Linked DNA regions of Homo sapiens: all the other regions are linked to region 1. Evidence: fine-mapped expression QTL. A gene starts in region 1. Each other region holds a variant in brackets. All regions are shown on one strand. Distances are between the middles of the regions.

Region 1 (5,097 bases):
AAGATTGCTGTTCCCACTTTACAGATGGTGAAGCCCAGGCCCAGAGAGGAGGAGTAACTTACCCAGGGCCACACAGCATGTCAGTGGGTGAGACAAACCTGGCCACAAGGGAGGAGAGAAGGCTGGCCCAGGAGAGGGCAGGCCCAAGGGAACCAGGGCAAGCAGTGTTCTCTCTTTCTTCTGACAGTGGCCACAGGAAAGGCCTTGCCTCTTGTCTGAAGCTTCAAACAAGCCCAGAGCTGGCACAGGGAACAGCCTGTCTACATGCTGGGTCACCAAACGGGCGGGGAGGGGAAGCGGGTGCTTGCTATTGGCCCAGGCTCTTGGAGCAACAGCCCTCGAGCTTCCTCCAATGCCAAGGGGCAGACAGCTGGGCTGTGTGGGGGCTGAAAGCTGTGCCCCCAGGGAGCAGCAGAGGAAGGCGGGGCCCGGCCTGGAGGCCTTGAAGCCACATTTCAAACACATTCCCCAGAAGGCACCTCCCCTTGAGACAGACCAGTGCCTGCTGGCCGTCTCCTGAGGCTCTTCCTGGCCGAAGCGTCATGCAGTGCCATTCAGCAAACGCTCTCAATGCCTGACCTGAGCTGCCTGGAAAGAATGGAGCTTGGGCCCAGGGAGAGATGCAGAGATGGGCTCCAGAGGAGGGTGTGTCCAAAGGGATCTCCTGATGCAGGAGGGGCCCAGGACAAGGCAGCTGAGTGGCACAGGCTAAACACTACTAGAACTTAGAGACATAGCCACAGGGCATCAGGAAGTCTTCCTGGAGGAGGTGGCAGCATTTGAGCTTGATTTTGAGTATATGTAGGGTGTCCCTGAGTGAAGGGGTGTGTGTGTGTGTGTGTGTGTTTGTGTAAGGCTGGGGAAGCAAACAAGATGACACAGAAAAGATCTGGAAATGGAGCGGCGTGGTGTGGGGCCCAGGGTTGGCAAATAACAAACAGTCACTGCCTGTAAGGGACCAATGGGAAGGCACAGTATGCCAGGTTAGGGATGGCCTTGGAGGACAGGTCTAGAAGTTAAGACAGTTCTTGCTAAGGGGGAGAAGTCAGATCTCAGCAGGAGGGGACTTGTTATTTTGGGGTGGCTTAGGTGCAGACCTGACCTAAAAGAGGGGCGCGACCACCCCGGAGAAGCAGTGGGATAGGTGTGTGGTTAGACCAGAGTTTGAATCCCCACTCTCTTGCCAACGTGCTGTGTGACTTGGGCATGTTCCGAACCTCTCTGATCCCTGGTCTGTGATGTGGGAACGCACTGGCCCCCAGCCTGTTTGGAGAAGTGAGGTAGTGCCGATGAATGGGAAGGGGCTTTGCAAACCGCAGAGGGCTGGGCCCTTGTGCCACGGCAGTGTCACACCAGGAAGAATGAGCAGGTTGCAGCTCCTGAGAGGAAGGGACCACCAAGGGCTGCCCGTGCCGCCCCCTCCTGCAGCTGCAAGCACGAACTGTTCCTTCCCCAATGACATCTGTCTGGAAGAAATTTAAAATTTAAAATGGGCAGCCCTATTCTCTCCTCTCCTTGGTGAGCGAGCGGCCTCCTCGTTTTCGCCTGCCTGCCCCAGTCCCTTGGCAGCCCAGCCTGGGGCAGCCCTGGGGCTCCCCTCCGCCTTGGCTTCGGGACTCCAGCCCCCTTGCTGGCCAGCCCAGGTGTTCTGCCCTCACCCGCTTCCACCGCACAGCCCTGGGCACCCTCCAAGCCCCACCTCCACTGCCCCTGAAGAGGCAGCAGGAAGGGAGGAATGAGTCAGCCCTGGAGCACACAGACAAGGGTTCAAATCCCGACAGAGCTGCGTGGCCTCAGGCAGGAGCCAACCATCTCTGAGCCCTGCTTTCCTTGTCTTAAAGTCAGAAAATCACAATACCCAGCGTTCCTGCAGGAGATGAATCTTTATTGATCCCCTACTGTATGCAGGGCCCTGGCTAAAGGGAAGGATGCAGAGGAGATTCAGGGGGTCAGGTTCAGGACCAGGTGCCTGGCACAGGGTAGCGCCCAGAGTGGAGATTCTGTGGGTAGTTAAGATGCCCATTGTAGAGGTGAGGAAACGGAGACTCAGCAACGGGGCTGATTTGTCTGTGGACACACAGCGAACTGTAAGTCCCCGCCTCCCTCTGCACCCGCGTGCACCAGGGGGCTGCTGGGGGTGCGGGGACGCGGGAGACCTGGCCCGCAGCGCGCGTGGCTCCTGCAGGGGTGCCGCCCCCACCGAACCTCGAGTTCAAGCCTCGGCTCGGGGAGGAGGAGAGGAGGGTCCCCATCCCGGCCCGGGCCTCCGGAGCCTCGAAGGGGTGCGCCCCAAACTCCAGCCCCCGCAATGGGTGCTCGCCCCGCCGGCCCGAGCGGCCACCGCCTGGCCAGCCGCCCAGGCCCCGTGTCCCAGCGCCCGAGCGTACCTGCGGCTTGTCGCGCGGCCGGTCCTCAAGTTGGGCAGCGCCGCCCATGGTCTTCCACCGGTCGTTGACCATCTTCCGGCAGGACTGGCGGGGGCGCCGGGCGAGGCGCGCCGCTGCGGAGCGCAAAGGAGACGGGGTGGGCGCGGGCGCGGGCGCGGGGCGCGCTCTGTCCGCCGGGTCCCCGCCTCTGTGCCCCGCGCCGGGGCGGCCCGGGAGCGGGCGGGCGTGTGAGGATGAGCGCGCCGCTGTGTGCGGGCGGGAGCAGGAGCGGGAGCGCGAAAGCCGCCAGCCCAACGCCCGCCGCTCGCGCTGCGCGCCGTCCCCGCTCCCGGCTCCGGCGCCTCCCCGGCGCGCTCCTCTCTCTCCTCCCTCGTCCCTCCTCCCTCCTTCTCAATCTCCGCATCTTTTCTGGTCTCGGACTCTCTTTGCTTTTTATTGCTCCCCTCGGCCTCCCCCGACACACTCACACACACGCGCGCGCTCACACCCGCGGACTTGGATACTAAACTCCGCCTCCGAAAAGACCTAGGGAAAGGAGGCCGAACTGGCCCCCAGATAACGCGGCCGGCCGGAGGGCAGCAAACAGCCGCGGGCGGCCCGGCTCCTGCTGGCTCCCGGAGGGGCCTGAGAGCCCCCCGGCGGCGCCTCTGCACAAACTTCCTCCCGGACCGGACTCACACAAGTCACCATGCGCGGGGCGGGCCCCGAGGGCGCCCCCGCCGGCCGGTTCGGCGTCTCCGGGGAGTGGCGCGGCGCTCCTTCCGGCTCCCTCCCGGCTCAGGACGCAGGGCTCGCCCCAAGACCCAGGCTGCGCCGGGGGCAGTTTCGGTGGGGTGCGCCCCCTGCGGGCCCCCGAGGTCTGGGTCCAGGTCCCGGGGCAAGTGCGCCCAGCTGTGGGGTCTCCAGCCCCCGGGGACCTCCCTGCGCCGGACCCCGACGCGTGAGCCTGGCCGGTGGGCGTCCCAGTCCGCGTCCGCAGACCCGTGCCCTCGCGCCCGCGGTCGGAAAGCCCACACGACGCCCCCTTGCCCGGGCGGCCCGTGGGCGAAATGGGGGTCCCCACCACTGCCACAGCCGCCGGCGCTGTGGTCGCGAGTACCAGCCGCTCCGCGCTCGGCCGCGCTCCCGGCCGATCGCCCGCGCTCCCCGGCGCGCCCCGCGTGGTCCCAGCCCCCGCCTTCTCCTCCGCCGGGAGGGGATTTGTGCCAGGAGGGGGCTTCTTAGTTGCCCCTTCCCACCAGCAGCACTTTTAAAAGCATTTAATCCGCCCGGAGCGGCCTTCGGAGGTAATTGACAAAGTCCTTAATCTGCGCGGCGAACGAGCTGCTATTGTGGCTTCTGACCGGGAGGCGCCCACACTGCCCGACGCCGCGCTCCCCTCCCGCCGCCCCGCCGAGCCCGCCGGCCGCCCCTCCTCCGCCCCTTTCTGCGTCCCCATCTTTTTCTGCTCCCCCAGCTCCAGACAGACCCCCGTTCCCCGCCCCCGCTTCTCCCCAAAGCTGTTTTCCGGCTCCCGGGGCGCCTTGGCCGCCGCGCTGTTCCCTGGCACCGTCTCCGTCTCTCCCCCACTGGCTGCCAGTCTGTCGCCCCATCTTCGTCCCTCTCCCGATCCCTCTACGCGTCCGGCACTGGCGGGGCAGACTGGTTGGGGGTGGGGGCCGCGTCCAGCCTGGGCTGGGGCACTCCCTGGACCCCGGAGCGGGGGACCCTGTGGCCCGGTGCCATCCGAGGAGACTGCCACCCGCCAGGCGCTGGGTTCACAAACCACCGGCTGTTTGTCCCCAGCCGCCTTTTCCTTCCAGGACAACCGCTGGCCTCACCTACGGCCCGATCCCGGCTTCCCGGACTGAGGCTGCCCGGGAGTTGGAGAGGATCCCACAGCAATGGCTGGGAGTCAGGAGACCCAGGTTCCAATTCTGGCCTCTGGCCCTTTCTGGCCCCTCGGCCTTTCCTATGAATTAAGAGGGTCAGCAGGTGATCTAGAGGGCCCTCAGACTTGGGAAGAAGGATGTGGTGGAGGGCACAGGGCCCTGGCTGTGTGGCTGAGGGCAAGCAACATACCTCTCCGAGCCTCAGTTTCCCCATGTAAGCCAAAGGGTTGACTGCACACGCTTCAGAAGGGCTCTGCCACAGTGCATCACAGCACCTGAGCAGGGCAAGGCTCAGATGTTCCTGCTGTGACCTTGGGCAGATTCCACGTCATCCCCAAGCCTCAGTTTCCTCGTAAACAAGGACTTGCCTATTGGTGGGGAGTGGCGAGGTTTGCAGGCCCTTGTGCAGTTACAGGCACAAAGCGGGCAGGTGGCGGAAATGCAAGGCTCTGACTCCACAGTTTGGCGAGAGGATGTAAACTCCAGACGCATTTGTGCACAGATGAAAGATCACCCTGGGGGGTGGAGCGGGGGTGGGGGGCTGAACTGAGAACCCACGGGAGGGGTGCTAAGGACCAACGGAGGAGGTCTTGGAGATGTGCTCAGAGTAGTCAGGGAGGCATCCTGGGATGGAGGGGTGTGAGCCCGCCCCCAAGGCCCATGAAGGCAGCATCCAGAAGTCTGGGTGCTGAAGGAAAGGCATTTCCAATGGCGGGGCCGCAGAAGGGAAGGCGGAGCTAGGGGAGTGACCCGGGCGTACCTGGGCAGGTGCAAACCGGAGGACCGGAGGACGCTCTGGAGGATCGCCTCCCGGGCCTGCAGAAGCGCGGTTGGACAGG
Region 2 (5,097 bases), 55 kb after region 1:
TCACATAGCTCCCCAAGCAGGGGGAGACCTAGCCGGACACTGAGGCTGTGGACTGTCCTAAATGGGGTTTGTCCTGGAAGCTGGGAGAAGTGGGGAAGGACAGGGCCAGGAGGCTGCTAAGAGAGTTGGAGAACTGGGTTTCAATCCTGCCTGACCCTCTCAGGATCAGCGATCTCAGGCAAAGCCCTCTGCTTCCCTGAGCCTCAGTGTTCTCATCTGCAGCCTGGGGGCAACGCCCCTCCCTCATAAGATCATCTTGAGGATGAATCTGGATGGTTTGTATGGCAGGTGGTGGGGACGGAGCCTGGCCCAATGGGGGTGAGCAGGAGGGGTCACCTCTCTGATTCTGACACAGCGGGGGGTGCCCCCTAACCCCACCTACTCTGAGTGGCCCCCATTTTTACCCTGTCCCGCGGAGGGTTGGGGGTTATACTGAATCCACCTCTCTGTCCCCCAGGGGCCTCCACCAGGCCGTGCCTCCTGGGCAGGCATAGACTTGGCAGCTTTACAGTTTTATTTTCTGAGCCCCCTCGCCTGGCCTTCACATCAGCCCCAGCAGGCGGCAGAAATTTCCCGCGGCCTATGCAGGGCCCCATTTGCGCATCGCCGGGAATGCTAATCGGCTCCTGGCGGTCCCAGGCGGAGAATCCCGCCTTTCCCTGACATTTGTAAAGTTCACGTTTTCAAAATAAAGCCACGTGAAGGGCGAGGCACTCGCAGATCACTTCCCTGTCACCGGCCTGCTGGCTCCTTCCCTGCCCTTGGCCTTCACTCCCCCGCTTAAAAGCCATCAGTCCTGGGAGAACAGCCACCCCCCTCCCCGAGCTTCGCTGGCCAGTTCCTTTCTCCCAGCCTTCTGCCTGCTTTCTGCCCTCCCTCCCTCCTTTCACACACTCACCCATTCACTTGTTCTTTCATTCTGCACTATTTATTGAGCACCTAGTGCACATCCTTCCTGGGTGTATGTCAAGGACACAGCAGGAAGCCCCAGGATTCTTGTCCCCAGGAGCTGACAGTCAAGTGGGAAAGAGGGACATGAAATACTCACTTAATGACAAGTGTGAGAAATGCCACAAAGTTGGAAGCAGGGGAGGTGTCACAGGGTTGGGGCACCAGGGACTGCTTCCCTGAGGAAGTGGCATCACCCCAGGCCTAGAGGAGGAGCAGGAGTCAGCCGCCACCCCACCCTGGCGAGAAGAGGCAGAAGGGCATTTCAGGACCCGCGGGTGCAAAGTCCTGGGATGGGGGGGCCAGGGATGCCTGAGGGTCTAGAAGAGGCCCGTGAGTTCTGGAGTCTTAGGAGCTTCAGCTCAAGAGATCCCCTTTACCCGAGGGGAATGGGGGCCCTGCAGGGTCGTGCCAGGCCCCTGGTGCGGACTGGGGTCCTGCTCAGGTGAGGCTCAGTGCACGTGGCGCTCAGATGGCCAGGCCCTAGGGCAGCCGGAGCTGTGCATGTGCCTCCCGTCCCTGGATGGGTTCTGCTGACTTACACTTGGGTTATAACTGGGTTCTGGTGACTTATAATTGCTGTTTCCTTGTCCTCAGCAGAAAGAGCTCGGAAACGAAATTATTGTTTAAGGACAGCCTCCCTGCAGTGAGAACTGCTGGCGAAGACCAGTGTCTTCCTCCTGCAGCCGCACAGCAGCAAGCGAGGCCGAGCTCATGGCCTGAGGGGGCAGACGGGCCACAAACAGACAAGCAAAAACATGCCCAGCAGGTGCGGTGAGGGCTAGGGGGGAAAACCCGCAGAGTGGCAGGGGAGTCCTGGGGAAGGTCAGCAGGAGGGTCTGGGACGGCCTCTCCATAAAGGGATGCAGAAGAAAGTGTGGGAAGAGCGTTCCAGGCACGAGGAGCAGCAAGTGCAAAGGCCCCGAGGTGGAAACGTGCTCTGTGTGATCGGGAAGGAGGCCCGTGTGGCTGCAGCCAGCCCAGTGGGCAAGGGGACAGGATGGCAGGTGTGGTCACTGAAACCAGAACTGGGTAGGGGGCAATCAAGTAGTGCCTCCTGTAGGGACAGTGAGGCCCGCAGAGCTGGGGCAGAGGCCGCTGGAGAACCCAGGGAGGAAAGGCTCTCATTTGAAGCAGCACACATTCACCCCTGACTCCCGCTTCATTGATTCACCATCATTCATTCACTCTCACTCATTCATTCCTTTTCTGTCCATTCTTCCGTCCACTTCCCATTCATTTGTCAGCTTTCATTCATCCCCTCTGCCTTTTGTGAGCATCTACCCTGCCACCTGCCCAGGGGAGGAGTCAGACCCACTCCCTGCCTGCCCTCAAAGGGCTCCTC[G/C]TCTGTGGTGGGGTCAGAGGTACAACAAAGCCCACTGTAGGGGCCTGAGGTGTTTAATCCACCCACGGGATGGGTTCCTGGATCCCTGGCCGGGCCCATCTGTGGGTGACACGTGGCACTGTGAGCTGTGGGGGCCGTATCTGGGCACTGGGCAGGGGGTGCTGTATCAGTGTGGACGTGGCTGCCAGCATTTTATAGGGAAGTGCCAGGCCCAACGGAAGCTGCTGGGGACCCTGGGTCCCCAGAGGAAGTGGCAGTGGGGGCCAGCAGGGGCCAGAGGCTGGGGCTGGAGCCTCTCACTGGTGGGGGGACAGCCTGGACCCCTGGGAGAGCCTTGGGAAAGGGAAGCCACTCTAGGCAGGCCTCAGAGGACATCCTTTGCTTCCCTTTATCATACAGATGGGAACCCTGAGGCCCAGAGAGGGGAAGGGACCTGCCCAAGGACACACAGCGTGGGAGGGGCCGAGCCAGGAGAAGTCTGGCCTCCTGGGTTCCTCTGGGCACAGAACTTCAGCACTGACAACGGCTTCCCCATCTCCCCCAGGCCTGCTCCTGGACCGGCGACCCTGTCTGAGCACAGCACGCCCACCCAGGGCCCAGCCAGAGACCCAGAGCCAGCCTCAGCTTTGCTCACCACCCCGCCAGCCCAACTGGGTGATTTTCTGTCCCCAGTGCCTTCTGGCACAGATACCCCCATGCCCAGGGGCCACAGTTTGCTTCCCGGGTCCTGCAGACCCCAGCTCCTCCCTGCTCCTGTTTAGGCTACCACCTCATTCTCCTCGGGTCCCTGCAGCAGCTGCCAAACCATTTCTGCTTCCACACCACCCCCAGCGGGCCAATCTCCCTGCACATCCCAAGAGAAAATCTTCCCACAGCTCCCCATGGCCCCCCGGTGAAGTCCAGGCTCTCCAGCAGGATGTCCTGGGCCCTTCTTGGCTCCCCTTTTCCACCCTCCCCACTCCTCAAATGCCCATCCTCCCACCCCCATCCTCCGCTTCTGAGCCTTTCACATGCTGCTGTCTGCCTGGGATGCTCTTCCCCAACCCCTTTTCCTGGATACTCCATTCTCCTCCAGGTCTCAGCTGAGACTCCACCTCCTCCAGGAAGCCCTCCCTGATCTCTCCAGACTGTGTTAGGCATCAGGTCTCCACTCTCACTGCCTGGTGCTTACAGCCTTGTGTTGTTATTAACAGCTTCTTGGATCCCTAAAGTGCAGGGACAGTTTCATCATTATTCATCACTCTGTCCCCTGTGTCCAGCCCAGGGCCCAGAGTGTGGGCTGAGTAAACATCTGTCCAGTGGATAAAGGAATGAATGAATGAATGGATAGATAACCACGTTTATCTCCTTTGTAGCCCAGCCTGTGGCCCCTGCACCACCGAGAAGGGGACATCCTTTATTCTTCTGAACCCCCTGAACTTGAAGGGCTGCCCAGGGCTGACTCATCCAGGCCCAGACCCACCTCAGGCTGAACACAGCAGGGAGGTTGAGACAGTTGCTAGACTGAGTAGTGACATGCCCTGAGGCCAGTCATGTCCCTTGGCCTGTCTAAATCTGTTAACTCTGTAGGAGGAGATGCTCCGTGAGGGTGACAGCTGAGGGGCCCCCTGTCAGCTCCCATCAGCTCCCTCTCCATCCTGCCTCCCATCTCATCTTGCAGGTCTCCAGTGAGCTGTCACCTCCTCTGAGAAGCCTCCCTGATTGCTCACCCCCTCATGGAGCTCATCCCAGCCCTGTGTCTATTTCCTTTGCGGCTCTTACCGTGATCAGTCACTAACTAATTCACCAGGTTGCTTCCTGGGTCACTGTCTGTCTTCCTGATTCTCTGGGGAGCACCATGAGGTCCCAGACAGTCTATCCCCTGTACCTCAGCAACCAGCCCAGGGAGGGCACAGAACAAATGTCCCCTAAAGTAATAGAATGAATGAATGGATGGATGAATGAATGAATGGAGAGCAAAGTGGAAAGGCGCACAGGCTCTGGGGCCGGGCACACTGGGGTGTGTACACGGCTCTCTGTTGCTGACGAGCAGAGTGGTCCTGGGCAAGGAGCTGTCTCTGGCTGGGCCTCAGTTTCCCTGTCTGCAATATGGGGAGAATAACAGTAACTACTTGTGGAGGTGGTGCACTCAGCCCAGGTCTGACTCCCAGGAGGCCTCTCAGGGGGTGACCTTGTCCTTGCTCAGAGGGGCAGGGCAGTGCCCAGGGATATGCTGCAATACAGACAGATGGGCGTGGGCCTAGCAGTGGGATCCTGGGGGCTGATGTCGCCAGTTGCTAACTTCTTTCTTCCACAGTTGTCCACAAGCCCTTGGCAGACCTCCCAGTTTTCACTTCCTGCCCTTGAAGCCTGCCTGCAGAGCAAGTGATGTCTCCCCACCGAACAGAAGGGAAGATCGAGACCCAGGCATGCGGACAGAGAGCACAGGCTTAACAGAGCCTCTGAGCCAGACCTGGCATCCTGGGAACCACCTAGACCAATGCTCTTGCTGTCCACATGGGGAACTGAGCCGCCCTAGAAGGGCAGAGCCCCACCCAAGATACCACAGTGAGTCTGGGCTCCAAAGCTGCAGGGTGGGGGCAGGGGGAGCTGCCTTTCCCCTCTGCGCTGTGCCCCCAACGCTGGGCTCCAACGAGGCTGCAGAGCTGTCAGGAGAGATCAGCAGGGCCCTGGCCGATCTCCCCAGATTTAATTAACAGGCCTTTCATCTCTGTCCTGAAGGAATCAGCTCTCTTCTGTCTTCTTAATTAACGTTCATTAAGCAAATCAGAACAACAGGGTTTTTCTCCCTTCTTTCTTCTCCC
Region 3 (5,097 bases), 550 kb before region 1:
TGAGTAAATGAGAGAGTTTAACTCTTATTCAAAAGCCCAGAGGTGGGTGTCTAGGCTGGTGGGTAGCTCGGCTCCATGCGGTAGTTAAGGGACCCGGGTTCCTTCCCTCCTGTTGATCTTCCATTTCTTAGGGTGTTGTTCTTGTGCATATGGTTGAAACTGGGACACGGCATCGTGTCCTGGCCCACAGGAAGCAGAAAAGAGCAGAAGTGGTGGGCAAGCATTTATTTCATACAGAAGTTGCACCTGTCCCTTCTGCGTGTATTCCATTAGTGAGCGCTCAGGCAGCTGGCTGCAGGGGACACTGGGAAATGTAGTTTCTGCTAGAGTGATCGTGGGCTCAGCTAAAACTCTGCTATGCACAGTGGGAAGAACGGGCTGAGGGGACACCAGCCATCTGCCACAGATGCCAAAGCCAGTAGCCTCCCAACCAGGTGAGCGGTGGGCACATGCAACCCTGAGCCATACACAACACAATCGTTGAAAAGGACTGACAAGATGGAGTGCAGGGGCTCATGCCTGTAATCCCAGCACTTTGAAAGGCTGAGGCAGGGATGATCACTTGAGCCCAGGAGTTTGAGATCAGACTGGGCGACATAGTGAGAAGCTTGAATCTACAAAAAATAAAAAATAAAGTAACAAGAAAGGGACTGACACCAGGCTTGCTGCTCAAAGCTCCCAGCCCTTTCTGATGGCTACATTGATGAACAGTGGAAAGGGGGAATATCTGGTCCCTGAGGGCAAAGGCATTTCATCTTGAGCCTGGTTGACTCTGTTCCGCTGGTGGTGTCTGCCTGGGGTGTGTGACTTCATCCTGGCGGAGCAGGAGAGAGTGTTGGGATCGATTAGTGATGTCTGCCCTGGCACAGGTTAAGGACTGTGGGTGAGTGAGCCTCCCATTTACCATCCTTGGGCTAAGGAGACCCCGCTGGAGCTTTGCTTTGTATGCTTTAAAATAGCCAGGCACTGGTTCTATTTACATTTGTGAATAAAACATAGAATGGGAACTCCTAACTACCAGGAAGGGCTTCTTAGGCCTCCCTGATCTGCCTGAGGGGAAGGAAATTGGGGAAGAGTCTCAGAATTCTGACAGTCTGGCTTTCTTCCTGCAGTGCCCCCAACATTTGAGAACCCCAAGACAGAGACAGTGAGCCAGGTGGCTGGGAGCCCCCTGGTCCTGACCTGTGATGTGTCCGGGGTCCCTGCACCCACGGTCACTTGGCTGAAGGACAGGATGCCTGTGGGTGAGCACATCTGTCCTTGTCTGTTTCGCGTAAAGCATTCCTTTCTTTAATAAGATGACAGCAGAAGCGGACGAAGGAAGTTATTGGTTGTTGATGATCTTGGCAAAACCAGAGACTGGCAGTGCCGTGTTGCCCCCCCCCCCACCATTTGTGTTTGAGTGAAGCGTTGTTTATTGGCCCTTGGAATCCAAACATAAAGAGCGTCTCCTGTGAGGGTTTGGAAGCTCCTTTGCATCCACGTCCTCAGTCAGCTCCCATGAGACAGCAGACGTGGGCTCTCCATTGCGCAGGGCAGGTGCTGAGGGCCATGGAAAGCCCACTGGCTGACACTGGGCTCAGCATTGGCCCCCAGAGCTGCTCCTTGGTGGTGACTCAGCTCGGTCCTAGCTGGGCCGTTGGTCAACCCCATCCCCCATCCAGGCCTCCCCATTCTGGCCGCTGCTGTGCCCACCGTTCCTCCGCATGACGGCAGAAGCCCCACATGGTCTCCTGGGCCCACTGTGCCTCTCACGCAGGCTCCACGTGGGGCAGAAAGGTCTGAAGGTACAGCTCGGAGCTGGTCCCTTGTCTGGTGGAAATCCGTCCACAGCAGGGGCCGGCACTGCCAGCCACCTCTCCCTGCCCCTCCATGCGCTAAACGTGGCTGTGCTGGCTCCTCGAACCTGCCCCTCTCTCTCAGTAACAGCTTTATTGGGATATAATTCACACACTATATAATTCACCCACTGAAAACATCCAATTCAGTGATTTGTAGTACAGTCACAGAGTTGTGTGACCATCACCACAATCAAATTTAGAACATTTTTATCACCAAAAGGACACCCGTATCCATTAGCAATCACTCCCCGTTTTC[T/C]CCCCATTTCTTCTTCCCCCAGACCCAGGAAACCACAAATCTGCTTTCTGTCTCTGTGGATTGGCCTGTTCTGGGCATTTCACATTAATGGCATCATAGAGTGTGTGGCCTTTTGTGTCTGGCTTCTTCCACTTAGCGTGTTTTCAAGTTTCATCCGTGTTGTAGCATGGATCAGTACTTCATTCTTTTTTTTTTTTTTGAGACGGGGTCTCGCTCTGTTACCCAGGCTGGGGTGCAGTGCCACAATCTCGGCTCACTGCAACCTCTGCCTCCTGGGTTGAAGCGATTCTCCTGCCTCAGCCTCCCGAGTAGCTGGGATTACAGGCTCGCACCACCACGCCCAGCTAATGTTTGTATTTTTAGTAGAGATGGGGTTCCACCATGTTGGTCAGGCTGGTCTTGAACTCCTGACCTCAGGTGATCCACCTGCCTCGGCCTCCCACAGTGCTGGGATTATAGGCATGAGCCACCGTGCCCAGCCAGTGCTTCCTTATTTTTAAAAATTAAATTTTTCTCTTCATTCCCTTCTGTGGCTGAATATTCCATTGTGTGGCTGTGTCGCGTGTTGTGCATCCACTGGTCAGTTGATGGGCATTTGGGGTGGCTGCATCTTTTGGCTGAGATGCTCAGTGCTGCTGTGAACCTCCGTGTTCGTGTTTCTGTGTGGACCTGTGTCATCGCCTCTCGCGGGTCAGGTGGCTGCAGGCCCCACCTCCCTTTGCGTCCAGCTCTTGGCACATGTGTTCCCTGCCTGGAATACCCACCCAGGCTCCCGTGGTCACCTCTGCTCCCCCCGGCTGACTACTGCTCAACATTCACGTCTCAGCGGAGATTCACCACCTCTGGAAGCCCTCCCCCACCCTTCCTGTCCCCCAAGTTCCCCGGCTCCATCAGGGGCTCACAGGGCTTGTCAGCACTGGGTCCCCTTGTTTCATGGCCCCCACCCCCGATACATTGTGAACTCCTTGAGGACAGGGACTGAGCTGCCCTCATCTTGATTCCCAGGCTCTGCGCTGGACATGGGGCAGTTGCTCGTGTCTTTGTGTTGAGAGGCTGGCTGGATCCATGAGGATCTGGGCAAGGAGATCGTCCTGGGCTGGGGCCGTGAGAGATGGCTTTGGGCAGGGGTGTGGCTGGAGAGAATGAAGGGGGAGGCCTGAAGGCCGGGAGTGGGAGGAGCCCGAGCAGAGGCCCAGGGGGAAGCCCCAGTGTGACCTGTGTAGGGTCAGTGAGGGGCTGGTTTGACTTGAGCAGAAACCTTGATAGACAGGGGTAGAGGGGCAGGGCATGGAGGGAGAAAGCAAAAGCAGAAACCTTGATTGATGGGGGTAGAGGGGCAGGGCGGGGAGGGAGAGGATGGGAGCTGAGAGCTGGGCCTGAGAGCAAATCCTGGACACTGAAGGGAGGGGGTCCCTTGGGAAGAGCTGTCTCAAGTGGAAGGAAATGAGGAAGGCTTCTAAGGAACAGAGACTGGGCTGGGGAAGGTGGGGACATATAAGAAGGCGCCTCTGCCTCTGTGGGGCTCAGTTTCCTATGAGCACAAGAAGGGGCTGGGGGATTCAGGGGACCCCTCTGTCCCACAGAGAGCAGCGCGGTGCACGGTGTGGTCTCCCGGGGGGGCCGCCTCCAGCTGAGCCGCCTGCAACCGGCCCAGGCGGGCACCTACACGTGCGTGGCTGAGAACACCCAGGCTGAGGCCCGCAAGGACTTCGTGGTAGCAGTGCTGGGTAGGTCTGCGCCTGCACCCTCCTGTCCCACTCCCATGGCAGCCCCTGCCATCACCCAGGGCCTCACTGCACCCCTGCCTCAGTGGCCCCCCGGATCCGGAGCTCGGGCGTGGCGCGGGAGCACCATGTCTTGGAAGGGCAGGAGGTGCGGCTGGACTGTGAGGCCGATGGGCAGCCGCCGCCGGACGTGGCCTGGCTGAAGGACGGCAGCCCGCTGGGCCAGGACATGGGCCCCCACCTCCGGTAAGACTTGGCCCATGCCCTCCCCAGAGGCGGTAGGGCCCATGTTCCCTTACGCCTCTGCCCTGGGCCCTCCTTCCCTGTGGCAGGTTCTACCTGGACGGCGGCTCCCTGGTGCTAAAAGGCCTGAGGGCCTCGGACGCGGGTGCCTACACCTGCGTGGCCCACAACCCAGCCGGGGAGGACGCCAGGCTGCACACGGTGAATGTGCTGGGTGAGGAGCCCCAGGGCATCTGGAGGGTGATGCGTGGGCCTGGGCACGGGAGATAAGGCGACATGTGAGCAAAGCCCACACTGTGTCCTGGGCCACGGGTCTCACTTCCCTGGGCCTCCATGGCCCATCCTCAAACTAGAGGACAATAGTGCCAGCCCAGGGTATAGCGGAGATTCGGGAGGTGAGAAGAGAGTCAGGGAGTGGCTGTGTCCCCCATGCAGCGGGCCTCATCCTTCACAAGGGACCACTGTGGTTGCTGGCGGCAGAAGTCCAGGTCTCCACTTCTGGGATTTCCCTGGGAGGAGCCCACCTTCCTCCCAAGACCTCCGCACTACCCCTCTTTTTTCTACCCACCCTCAGTTCCTCCCACCATCAAGCAGGGAGCAGACGGCTCGGGGACCCTGGTGAGCAGGCCTGGGGAGCTGGTGACCATGGTGTGCCCTGTGCGGGGCTCCCCGCCCATCCACGTGAGCTGGCTCAAGGACGGCCTGCCCCTCCCGCTCTCCCAGCGCACCCTCCTCCACGGCTCTGGCCACACCCTCAGGTAGGGGAGACGGTGGACAGGCCTTGGCTATTCCACTCAGAGTGGACATGTGGGGATTGTCAGCAAATGGGAGGTGCTGGAAGCCAGGACTGGCTGCAACACCCACTCCCCACCCCACAGCGAGTGTGGACTGCGCCCCAGATGCTAATGCTAGGATGGGTCTCAGGGACCCAGGGAAGGGGAGGTGGTGGGGGTAGGAGGAGATGCAGGAGAAGTCAGGTTTCAGGGAAGGAGAGACCAACTGGGCCACAGGAGACGAGGCCTGAGGACGGACT
Region 4 (5,097 bases), 23 kb before region 1:
AGCGCCTGGGCTGCCTCTGTTGTTCATTTTAATAACATTCTTGATTTGGGAGTCAGGAATCCCATCGGTTAAATTGCTTTGAAATGAGTACCACGCTGGCCCGGGCCAGAGCTGCCTGGAGTATTTACAGGATCCGCTGACAATCCGTCCCAGCCGGCCTCCCCAGCCCTCCCAGCCCTCTTTCTGTTTAACAAGCTTTATTCTCCTTTATTCTCCCTGCTTTATTCTCCGAGGCAGCGCCCGCGGCCCGGCCGGCCTCCATCTGTGTCAGAGTCTGATGTGTTAGAGATCTGGCTGCGGCACCGGCGAGCTGCCAGTTTCATTACTAAGCAGCCTGATTTCAGTCGCTCGGAACTGCCCGGATGCCCGGTCTGACCCGAGGCGTCTGCCGCGTGAGCGTTTGCCAATGCTCTGAGCCCTGCTCTGAGCCCTCGGGGACGTGTCCGTCACGGCGTTTGGGCAGCTCTGACGTCAGGGAGCTGGAGGGAGATGACACCTCCTTTTTCGTGCTTTGCTACCTCAAACCTGGCCCAGCTCTGAAATCTGAAAGTCCTCAGGAGTGACCGGCTCGGGGTGGAAGGAAATTCGATCAGGCTCAGGGAGATCTGAGGAGCGGTGGAGAGCCGTATTGATGGCCGCATATTGGGACCCTGAGCACGCACCTTTTCAAAGGCCTAATCCTAGCAGAAGCTCAGGCACTCCCCTGAGAAGGCAGCGGGCAGTAGGAGCCTGTTTCCGCAGGAGGAGGGGAGCTAGAGGGACCGGCAGGCCCGAAGCCCCCTGGGATGCCTGGCTGGCATTGGCCGTCGGCTGGGCCTCTGCCCTGGGGACTGGGGACCTGGGCATGCTCAGTGGTGAAGGAGTTCCTGAAGGCAGGGGAGCCCAGTGGTTGTGGATCTGGGTTCCAGGGCCCCAGCTTTGCCTTAGAGAGCCCTGGCAAGTCCCCACACCTCTCCAGGCCCCAGCACCCACGTCTGTAAAGCAGAGATCACAGCCACGCCTTCCTCCCAGGCTATGACCATCCACCGAGAATAAGCTCAGGCCTGGCACATAGTAGGTGTTCAGCAAGTGCCAGCTGGGTGGCTAGCCACAGCACTGAGGCCCAGGCCTGGGCGAGGGCTCCTGCCTCCTCTGCTCCTCTCCCAGACTCTGGCCTCCACCCTCCCCCAGCCCTCCCGAGGGGTCTGTCCCAGCCTCTCATTCACACAGATGTTCCACCGAGCATCTCCTGCCAGGCACCAGCTGCAAAAGCCAAGTCAGTGGATACGAGGTCACGGTTCTGCCCTTGGGGACCTTAGGGCAAAGGAACAGAGGAGACACCCGTGCTCAGGGGACCCCAACCGTGCAAGAGGCAGGACAGACTTGGAGGTTGGGGAGAGAACAGGTCTGCCCAGCAGGGTGGCCCTGGAGGAGGGGCAGGGTCCTGGGCCCTGTGTCAGCCTGCTGGGCGGGGCAGAAAATGCAGGGAAGTAGGCCACAGTGCGGGTAGTGGGGAGACCCCAGCAGCCAGTGGGCGTGCCCAACCAGGGGCAGGTGAGCTGATGTACAGGTGCCCAGCTGTGCCTCTTCCTAAAGGCTCAGAGGAACCATCCAGAATGAGAGCAAGAAGCCCCGGTAGCCCAGACCACAGCCTCCGAGAGGATCCCCCAGGCTCTGCCTCCAGCGCTCACTCCCACCACTGGGACGCCTGGAACCAATGCTGCCATTTACGTAACTCGCCAGACCCCAGCCCTGCCCTGACTCTTCAGGATGTGGCAGGAGGGGCTGTTCCTGCCCCTGCGTCCCAGCTGATGGGATGATGGGCAGTCGAGACTCAGCTCGGGGGCTGCGTGCTCTCTGCGTGCCCATGTCCCTCCCCAAACCCTTTCCCCGAGCCCAGGCACCCCACCCTTACAGGGCCGAAGCTCGGACACTGGCCAGCGGCCAGGCGGCCGTGAGCAGCAAAAAGCGGGGGCCGACTACATCTTGTGCCCTCAGTCCCACGACAGTCTGGACCTACCCTTGCCACCAGCGCCTGAAGGCTAATGTCCTGACACCATGTCCACACTCGTGCTTGGTGGCAGGTCCACTGACCAGGATGGCTGTAGCCTTGAGTGTGCCCCTCTACCCAGGCTTCTGGTGCCAAGAGCTGGTCCCTGCACCCACAGTCCTCAGCCCCCTCTTTCCCACTGCCCTCTCAGTCTGGGTGCCAGTTACAGTGACCCCACCATCCCCCAGGGCTCCTCCTTGGTGCCGATCAATTGGGGTGAGCACACCTGGCCCCCTGCCTTTGCCTCTGCCCAAGGAAGGACACTGAAACCACATACGGCCGGCACTCCTGTCCAGGTAGCCCGAATCAACGCCCACTTAGAAACTGCAGCAATTGGCCAGGAGCGGTGGCTCACGCCTGTAACCCCAGCACTTTGGGAGGCCGAGGCAGGCAGATCTCCTGAGGTCAGGAGTTCGAGACCAGCCTGGCCAACACGGTGAAACCCCGTCTCTACTAAAAATACAAAAATTAGCCGGGCATAGTGGCAGGTGCCTGTAGTCCCAGCTACTTGGGAGGCTGAGGCAGGATAATCACTTGAACCCAGGAGGCGTGGTTGCAGTGAGCCGAGATCGCGCCACTGCACTCCAACCTGAGTGATAAGAGCGAGACTCTGTCTCAAAAAAATAAAAAAATAAACTGCAGCAACTGTCGGCCAACGTGGGCACTTTTAACGTGTGCAGTGACGGATTGCGGACCTGCTCTTAAGGCGCCAAGACACATCTGTGGTCTGGCCTTGAAGAAGTGACCTGCAGACTGACCATGTCCCAGAGAGATGCAGCCGACGTCACCACACAGGCACACGCATCCAGACTCCAGACTTAGCTTAATGCAGAAGGACGTGCATAGATATTTTCTTTTTTCTTTTGACA[CAG/C]AGTGTTACTCTGTCACCCAGGCAGTGCGGTGGCACGATCTCAGCTCACTGCAACCTCTGCCTCCCAGGTTCAAGCAATTCTCTGCCTCAGCCTCCTGAGTAGCTGGGATTACAGGCACCTGCCACCATGCCCGGCTAAGTTTTTTGTATTTTTAGTAGAGACGGGCTTTCACGATCTTGGCCAGGATGGTCTTGAACACCTGACCTTGTGATCCACCCACCTTGGCCTCCCAAAGTGCTGGGATTATAGGCGTGAGCCACCGCGCCCAGCCTTAGTGCACTGATATTTTCTATCATGTTCTATTCCACTCTATTTGATTGAAAAAATAATGTTGATCAAACCCATTCAGTTGATTTTGCCAGTGACCCACGGAGTACGCCCGCAGTTTGGGAACCACTGACAGCCTTTGCCACGGGCTGTCCTGATTTCTTGGTTCACACCCCAAGTGACTGCCTGTGCCGGGCCCTGTGCTAGGATCTCGGGCTTGGAAACCCTGCCCCGACCTCGAGCCAATGACAGCCCAACGTGGCCTGACTAGTGCAAGTGCCGAGCACGGCCCAGATCGTCAGGTGGGTCCTCCCAGCTTCCCGTGTGGGGGAATGTTTAGTCTGACTCTGAGCCCAGGATAAACTGCAGCTGTGGCTTTGTATTTCTGGCAAACAGCTTCAGCGACACTGGACCTTGGTGACGCCAGATGCCTGGATGTGGCCAAGCACAGAGGGCTTTAATTACACAGCGAGGACCAGTGGGATGGGAGGACAGAGGGAGGAAGTAAGGAAAGGATCCAGGCGTCCACTTCCCCTTCTTTCTGCCCCACCCACCGAACGTGAATCCCCACTAGGCAAAAAGGGGTGGGGAGTCTGGGCGCGGTGGCCCACGCCTGTAATCCCAGCACTTTGGGAGGCTGAGGCAGGCACATCACTTGAGGTCAGGAGTTCGAGACCAGTCTGGCTAATATGGTGAAACCCCATCTCTACTAAAAATACAAAAATTAGCTGGGTGTGGTGGCAGGCGCCTTTAATCCCAGCTACTCGGGAGGCTGAGGCAGGAGAATCACTTGAACCTGGGAGGCAGAGGTTGCAGCGAGCCAAGATCACACCACTGCACTCCAGCCTGGGCAACAGAGTGAGACCTCGTCTTAAAACAAAACAAAACAAAATGGAGGCGGGGAGCAAAAGGTAGGGAAACAAAAATTACTGATTCATTTTCAGGCCAAAATATGAATTGGTCCAGCTCCGGGGGGGCGTCTCTCTTGGGTCCCGGCTGGAAAACGATTGAGTAGAAACACTCGCCGCAGCCGCAGCCTCTTGGGCAGATGCCACGAGTGGGAAGACAGACAGAGAGTGTTTTCTTGGTGCGGATTCTCAGAAGCCCGCCGCCCGGCGCACCTTGGAAGTGCCGCTTAGAGGGGCTCTGCCAAGGGAGAGCTGGGCCCACATGGTCCTGCAGATGGTGCTGGGCGGGTTCAAAGGAAGGAGTGACGGCTCTGGACATGGAGGAAGGAGTGACAGCTCTGGACGCGGAGGAAGGAAGACAGCAGCAGCCACCGACGGCCCTGTGTTGTCAGATGGGGCCTGGGGACCGAGGGAGGCGGAGATGCCTCTGGGCCGCTGCAGCCTTACACTCCGCAGGTTGCATCCCGCCCAGGGCTGCCTCTGCAGACAGACCCTGACCAACCAGCTGCTGCTTTGCCACTGTGCCCAGAACATGCAGCTAGCGTCCTGAGCACTGAGCTGGGCTCTGTGGTCACCCTAGCACCCGGCCAGTGCCGTAGAGGATGACCACGGCCTTCCCCGCCACAGCCCTGGAGGGACGACTGGTGCTCCCATTAGGCAGATGAGAAGACTGAGGCTTGGAGGAGTGGGCAACCCAGGTGCGCAGGGCTGAGATGGCCAGAGGAGTGGGGATGAGAGTGCACGCTCAGTCCCAGGGAGCTCCCTGGGCTGGCACCCAGGAGACCTGAGTTCTACCCAGACTCCAGCCAACAGGATACGTGGCTTCTCCCCTGCAAAACAAGGGCTCCTGCACAGCACCCCGTGTGTGCTCGGGGCTCACAGGGATGACCTTGGCCCTCAAAGCTCACAGCCCCATGAGAGACGACGCACAAGCCAGCAGCCATAGGGCAGAGCAGCTCCCACCCTGGCACATTCCTCCAAACCCCAGGCTTCAGTTTCCTCATCTGTAAAGCTAGGATTA
Region 5 (5,097 bases), 33 kb before region 1:
AGAGGACTGCAGACCCCAGGCCTGCCGGGGCACAGGGTGGGTGGCCTCCAGGGAACTGGTCTCAGCCTTGGAGCGTGGGTCCCCAAAGGCAGCAGCTCCCCATCCTGACCTCAGGGCCTGGTAGGATGGGGCCACCCAGCCCACAGCCAGGCTGAGGCCCTTGGGGGAGAGGTGGGTTCTCTGGGCACCAGGGAAACGGGGTGGGGGTTGGCATTGGGAGGGCTGGAGGATACTGGCCTCAGACCTGACCTCAGAGAGACCTGACGTTCCCCACGATCTGCTAGGAGGACTCCAGGGGTGCTGTCTGCCCCCTGCTCTCTGTCCCCATAATGCCGGGTATTTGGCCGGGCAGGGCAGAGGGTGCCTGGGGCAGACTCCACCATCCTGGCCAGGGGACGGCAAACAGCACCGGAGTCACAGTGGGGGCAGGCAGGAGTTGGGGTCGTCAAGTTTGCCAGCCCCCATCAGCAGAGGCAAGAGATCAGTGAGCTGCCAAATGGAGGGGGTGGGGACGGCGAGAAGGCGATGTGTGACTTCACCGGCCCAGGGAGCTTCGTGTCAGGGATGGCCCGGCCCCTCCCTACTGGAGAGTGGGTCCGCCAGGCACAGGTGGGTGGAGAACATTCACGAAAGAGTGAGGTGGGGTCGGGGATGGGGCGACAGGGACCAGCAGGGCCAAGGACAAGGTGCACCAGTCTAGCGGTCCTCCCGGACCGGCCGGATCTTCATCTCAGAGAACTTGAGTGAGTACTGCCAGCCGGTCCAGGAGGACCACTCCACGCCGTCGGCATAGGAGGCGTGCGCACCGCGCAGGTACTGCCCATTGAGGTTGGACGTGTGGCAGTTGCGGTACCACCAGGCACCGCGGTAGAAGGCGGCACAGTTGTTCTCTGAATGGTCGCTGTCACGGTCCTTGGTGGTGAACCTCATGCCGCTGTGCTTCAGGAGGGAGTCGCCTGCGCAGGGGTGCACACAGGTGTGGGCACGGGGGGCACGGGTACACCCACTGGTGTTGCATGTGTGAGCAGACACCGAGACACTGCACGTGCACCTGGACGTGAGTGCATACACGTACGCACGTGCTCTCACACATACTGCTGTGCACGCGTGCAAGCGCACCTGCCCCTCCACACCCGGGTGTGTCCATGCAGCTCACACGCACGCAGTCCCTTCTCGGGCGTGCCTGGGGCTGCCCCTGGGTCTAGGCGGTCTCTATCCCTCCCCCCAGCTTTTCCACATTCCCTCTCCTGCCTCCCCGCTCCTCGGCCTGAGAGGGGAAACCCAGCCCAGGGGGGTCCAGCCACCACACTTTAGAGACCCAGCGGACCCGAACCCCGGGTCTCCTGATTCCTGGCTCTGGGCTCAGTTTCTTTATCTGCAAAACGGGAAAACAGTCCAGGCTCTGCTGGCTTCGCCTTGCAGGGGTGAGGACCAAGCAGGACTTGGAGGAGGAGGCAAGCAGCCTTGACCCTGACCCCAGAGGGCCGAAGGGCATCATCAACACTATTATGAAAAAACGAACAGAAGATTCGCAGAAGCTCATCTTTTATGACATGCAACTGAATCAACTGATGAAGACAAGGACTGAGGGATCCTTGGTAAGGAAGAAAATTTTCCCTTTTCTGTCTTGTTTACTCTTCCAATTTGAAAAATTTATTACTTAAAAAAAATTTAGATTGGTTTCAGGCCTCTGATTGTGATGTGGGGTTGGTAGTTTATCAATATTTGTTATTTTTCAAAAACCTGATTACTTTCAAAGGGGGAAAAATACATTAGCCTTGATCATTTTGGAGGGCAGGACCTCCTCCGTCCTCCATCCTCCCAGGCCGCCCCCCTTCCCCATCCCTGCCACAGCTGGAGCCTCACCTGCAGTGCCGGAATAGTCAGCCACGGTGAGCGGGTACCCGTCTTCCTCAGGGTCCACGGAGAACAAGCCCACGCCGAAGCTCCCGTAGCGGGCATAGGCCGTGCCATTCTCAAAGTCCTCCAGGTCCACGTGCAGCTCGTAGGCAGCCTGTGTGGTCAGGGCGTGGATCCTCTTGAGCCCTGAAGTTGGGGGGAAAATGGTGGGAGAAGCTGAGGGGCGTAGGAAGCGACTCCCCAGGGAGAAATGATAAATGACAGCTGAGCTCATGCAGTTGGGGACAGAAAGGGACAACCACCAAGTGCGTGCAATCAGCCCTGGGCTACTTCCTTCTTCCTGCAGGCCTGTGTTGGGCAAGCCACTGAGGACCGACAGTTTTCATGTTTGGTTTTCTCTGTTCCCTTTAAGTGGAGCTGTGATGCTTTTCAAACGTTGGGGCTCTGAGCTGGTGGGAAGACTGCAGGAGGCGGGAGGAGGTGGGGGTGACAGCACCCTTACCCAGACTCCAGCCAGAGCCAGACAGACAGGATCTGTGTTCGCATTTTCCTATACCTGGCCTCTGGGCCTTTGCACATGCTGTTCCCTCTGCCAGGATGCTTGTCCCTACTCCTCCTCACTTGGTTACCTTCTATTCATTTCTGGAAGGCTGCCTGACCTCCTGTCGGCGTTGAGGACCTCCTCTGCCAACACATGTGCCCCTGTGGGTATTTATCTTTCAGGGTCCCGGCTGCCTATCTTGTCAGTTTCCCCACCAGTGCGGAATTCCCGTGACAGTGGCATGTCCGACCTAGCCACTGCTGACCCCAGTGCCTGGGGTGGGGCCTGGCACAATGGTGCTTACCCAGCGCTGGCTTAGTGGATGGGAGGGAGTTGGCGGCACCCTCACCCCTCTAGGCCGGCTCTGTGCCCCCATCCTACTCTCTCCCTCCTGCTGTCCCCGCCCCACCTCAACTCTGCCCTGCCCATCCCCGGGGTCTCATGCCAGGCCTCCCCTACCATACACATACGTGCTCAGACTCCCAAGATGCTTCACTGCTGGTGTGGTTACTCTTGATTAAGAGGGCATTTAATGAAATGTTTCACAAGTTAGTAGCAGCGAGTGGTATTCCATCCGCTTCTCCCTCCTGCCTGCCTCTCCCCGGCTCCGCACCTCCCGGGGTCAGTGTGTGCTGGCTGGAGGCTGTGCGGATCCTCCCCCATCCCGCCCGGACAAGAAGCCTTTGGTCCCAGTCACCAGGTCCAGGGACCAGGAGCAGC[T/C]ACTGTGGGAGGAGTCACAGCAAAGCTGACCGCACGACCCACGTTCCTCCCCAAGGACCTGCCAGGGCATGGGCTTTGACAGCCTAGGGTCTCACCCAGGGTCCCCACCTCCCTGACTCTCCTGCTGCTGAGTCTCAGGGCAGCCGCTCTCCCTCTCTGGGCCCCAGCTCGGCTGGCGCAGGGCTGATGTGAGGGGCCAGGAGAGTGTCATACACAAAAGGGCAGGTGGGAGGTAATCATGACAACAGCCGCCACCTGGACGGCACTCGCAAGGGCCCAGCACCGTTCTCAGCCCTTCGTGCAGATGAGTGAATCCAGTGGAATTAGAGTGAGTCTAATTTAATTACAGAATCCCTGGGCGGCTCTTCTGGCAGGGCTGGCCCGCTGCACACATTATCCAGGTGCTGACTGCTGCTTCCCAAGGCCCCGGGGAAGGAGTGCCTATTACTACCTATTTTATAGGGGAGGAAAATGAGGCCCAGGGAGGTTAAGGAGCTGGCCCAGGTCACGCGGCTGCTGAGTGGCATTGCTGGGATTTGAACCCAGGCAGAAGGGCCCCAAATCCCTGCTGCTATTCAGACCTTACCCAGAACAAATCAGATGATGCAGGAATAGGGAGAGAGGGAGACCGGCCCCCCGGGGATGCTGGAAGATTCCTTTTCCCACCACTAATTGGCCATTGGCACCCAAAGGCCACCATTAGCCACTCCTCTGGGTTGAGTGACAATTCATGAGCGGTGTCCCGGGGGCTGCTAGGCAGGACGCCCGAGGGAGGGGTGGGTGGGGACCTGGGGCCTGGGTCCTCTCCGTCCTTCCTCCAGTCCACGCCACCTCCTCCCTCCCTCGCCTCCCTGCCCTTGCTCTTTGGCTTTCTCCAGCTCTCCCAGCTTTTCCCTGGCCTTCCAGGACCGCTCCCAGCCACGTTAGCTGTTCTTCCCAGATTCCCTGGGCCCCTGATCCAACTCCTTCACCAGCTCCCGGCTCAAATCGCCAAGAGCAAGAAACAGGGCTGATGGCTTGAAACAGACAGGAAACCACTAAGACCCTAAACTTCACATGTCCACCCCAGTGGACTTCCAGCTGGACTAAAGCTGTCAACCTAAAACAACACTAGAAAAACAGAAGAAAAGCCTGGGCGCGGTGGCTTACGCCTGTAATTCCAGCACTTTGGGAGGCCGAGACGGGCAGATCACGAGGTCAGGAGTTCGAGACCAGCCTAGCCAATATGGTGAAACCCCTGTCTGTACTGAAAATACAAAAATTAGCCGGGCGTGGTGGCGGGCGCCTGTAATCCCAGCTACTTGGGAGGCTGAGGCAGGAGAATCGCTTGAACCCGGGAGGTGGAGGTTGCAGTGAGCTGATATCATGCCACTGTACTCCAGCCTGAACTACAGAGTGAGACTCTGTCTCAAAAAAAAAAAAAAAAAGAAAGAAAAGAAAAACAGAAGAAAAAATAGAGGAGACTTAAAAAAAAAATAAAACTAGGAAGGGAAGGAAAGGAAAGCAGGGGCTAAAACCCAGAAAAGATACAAAGAAAAGGGTGGCAGAACTGAGTGCATAAACATCTTAAATTTCTAGGAAATAAATAATAACATGACCCCACAAAAGAAAAAGAAAAAGCTGAAAGACAAATGGCCAGAAGTTAATACCTATCATGTGTTGGACAAATGATCGGTAACCTTAATATATAGAGAGCTTCCATGACTCGATAGGAAAAGACAAAGCACTCATTGAGAGGGGATGGGGAGGGTGGTGCGGCAGAGGAGGGACTGGCGCTGTTGACATTCCTGTCAGGGCTCGTCTGCAGGATGCTGGAATGAGGACCTGCTTAAATGCTTCCTCCCGCATCATCTGCAGCTGCTGATAGATTTCAATTAAGATACCATGAGCACGGGCATCACCGCTGCTCCAGGGGGTGGGTGGTGGCGAGGGCATGCCTTGGCCCTGCCGCCTTGTCCTTATCTTTACCCCCAGCT

Evidence for each region. PIP is the estimated chance that this variant, and not a neighbour inherited with it, causes the effect. A credible set is the group of variants that fine-mapping cannot tell apart.
Region 2: its variant is the best candidate, but not a certain one, in a credible set for the expression of FIBCD1 in whole blood (TOPMed, PIP 0.87).
Region 3: its variant is the best candidate, but not a certain one, in a credible set for the expression of FIBCD1 in nucleus accumbens (GTEx, PIP 0.54).
Region 4: its variant is the best candidate, but not a certain one, in a credible set for the expression of FIBCD1 in sun-exposed skin (GTEx, PIP 0.71).
Region 5: its variant is the best candidate, but not a certain one, in a credible set for the expression of FIBCD1 in lung (TOPMed, PIP 0.85).

The regions. Positions count from the first base shown.
Region 1 is chr9:130,936,149-130,941,245 of GRCh38, forward strand. It overlaps FIBCD1 (fibrinogen C domain containing 1), which reads right to left and starts at 3,099. Exons shown (of 7, transcript NM_032843.5): 1 at 2,388-3,099. The coding sequence starts at 2,459. FIBCD1-AS1 (FIBCD1 antisense RNA 1) reads left to right here and starts at 4,198. Exons shown (of 3, transcript XR_930398.3): 1 at 4,198-4,294. RefSeq lists an enhancer at 2,801-3,731 and silencers at 2,976-3,185, 4,954-5,097.
Region 2 is chr9:130,990,942-130,996,038 of GRCh38, forward strand. No RefSeq gene overlaps it. Among named protein-coding and RNA genes, the nearest start is that of LAMC3, 16 kb to the right of the region's middle. RefSeq lists an enhancer at 4,147-4,703. The variant G/C (reference allele first, on the strand shown) is at 2,294.
Region 3 is chr9:130,387,297-130,392,393 of GRCh38, forward strand. HMCN2 (hemicentin 2) reads left to right here. Exons shown (of 98, transcript NM_001291815.2): 62 at 1,113-1,244; 63 at 3,681-3,824; 64 at 3,908-4,067; 65 at 4,154-4,278; 66 at 4,639-4,822. Among named protein-coding and RNA genes, the nearest start is that of ASS1, 55 kb to the right of the region's middle. RefSeq lists enhancers at 1,115-1,648, 2,504-3,011. The variant T/C (reference allele first, on the strand shown) is at 2,098.
Region 4 is chr9:130,913,057-130,918,153 of GRCh38, forward strand. The region is part of intron 4 of FIBCD1 (fibrinogen C domain containing 1); the gene reads right to left. Among named protein-coding and RNA genes, the nearest start is that of QRFP, 19 kb to the left of the region's middle. RefSeq lists an enhancer at 1,249-1,941. The variant CAG/C (reference allele first, on the strand shown) is at 2,899.
Region 5 is chr9:130,903,368-130,908,464 of GRCh38, forward strand. It overlaps FIBCD1 (fibrinogen C domain containing 1), which reads right to left. Exons shown (of 7, transcript NM_032843.5): 6 at 1,867-2,046; 7 at 1-956. The coding sequence ends at 697. Among named protein-coding and RNA genes, the nearest start is that of QRFP, 9.1 kb to the left of the region's middle. The variant T/C (reference allele first, on the strand shown) is at 3,122.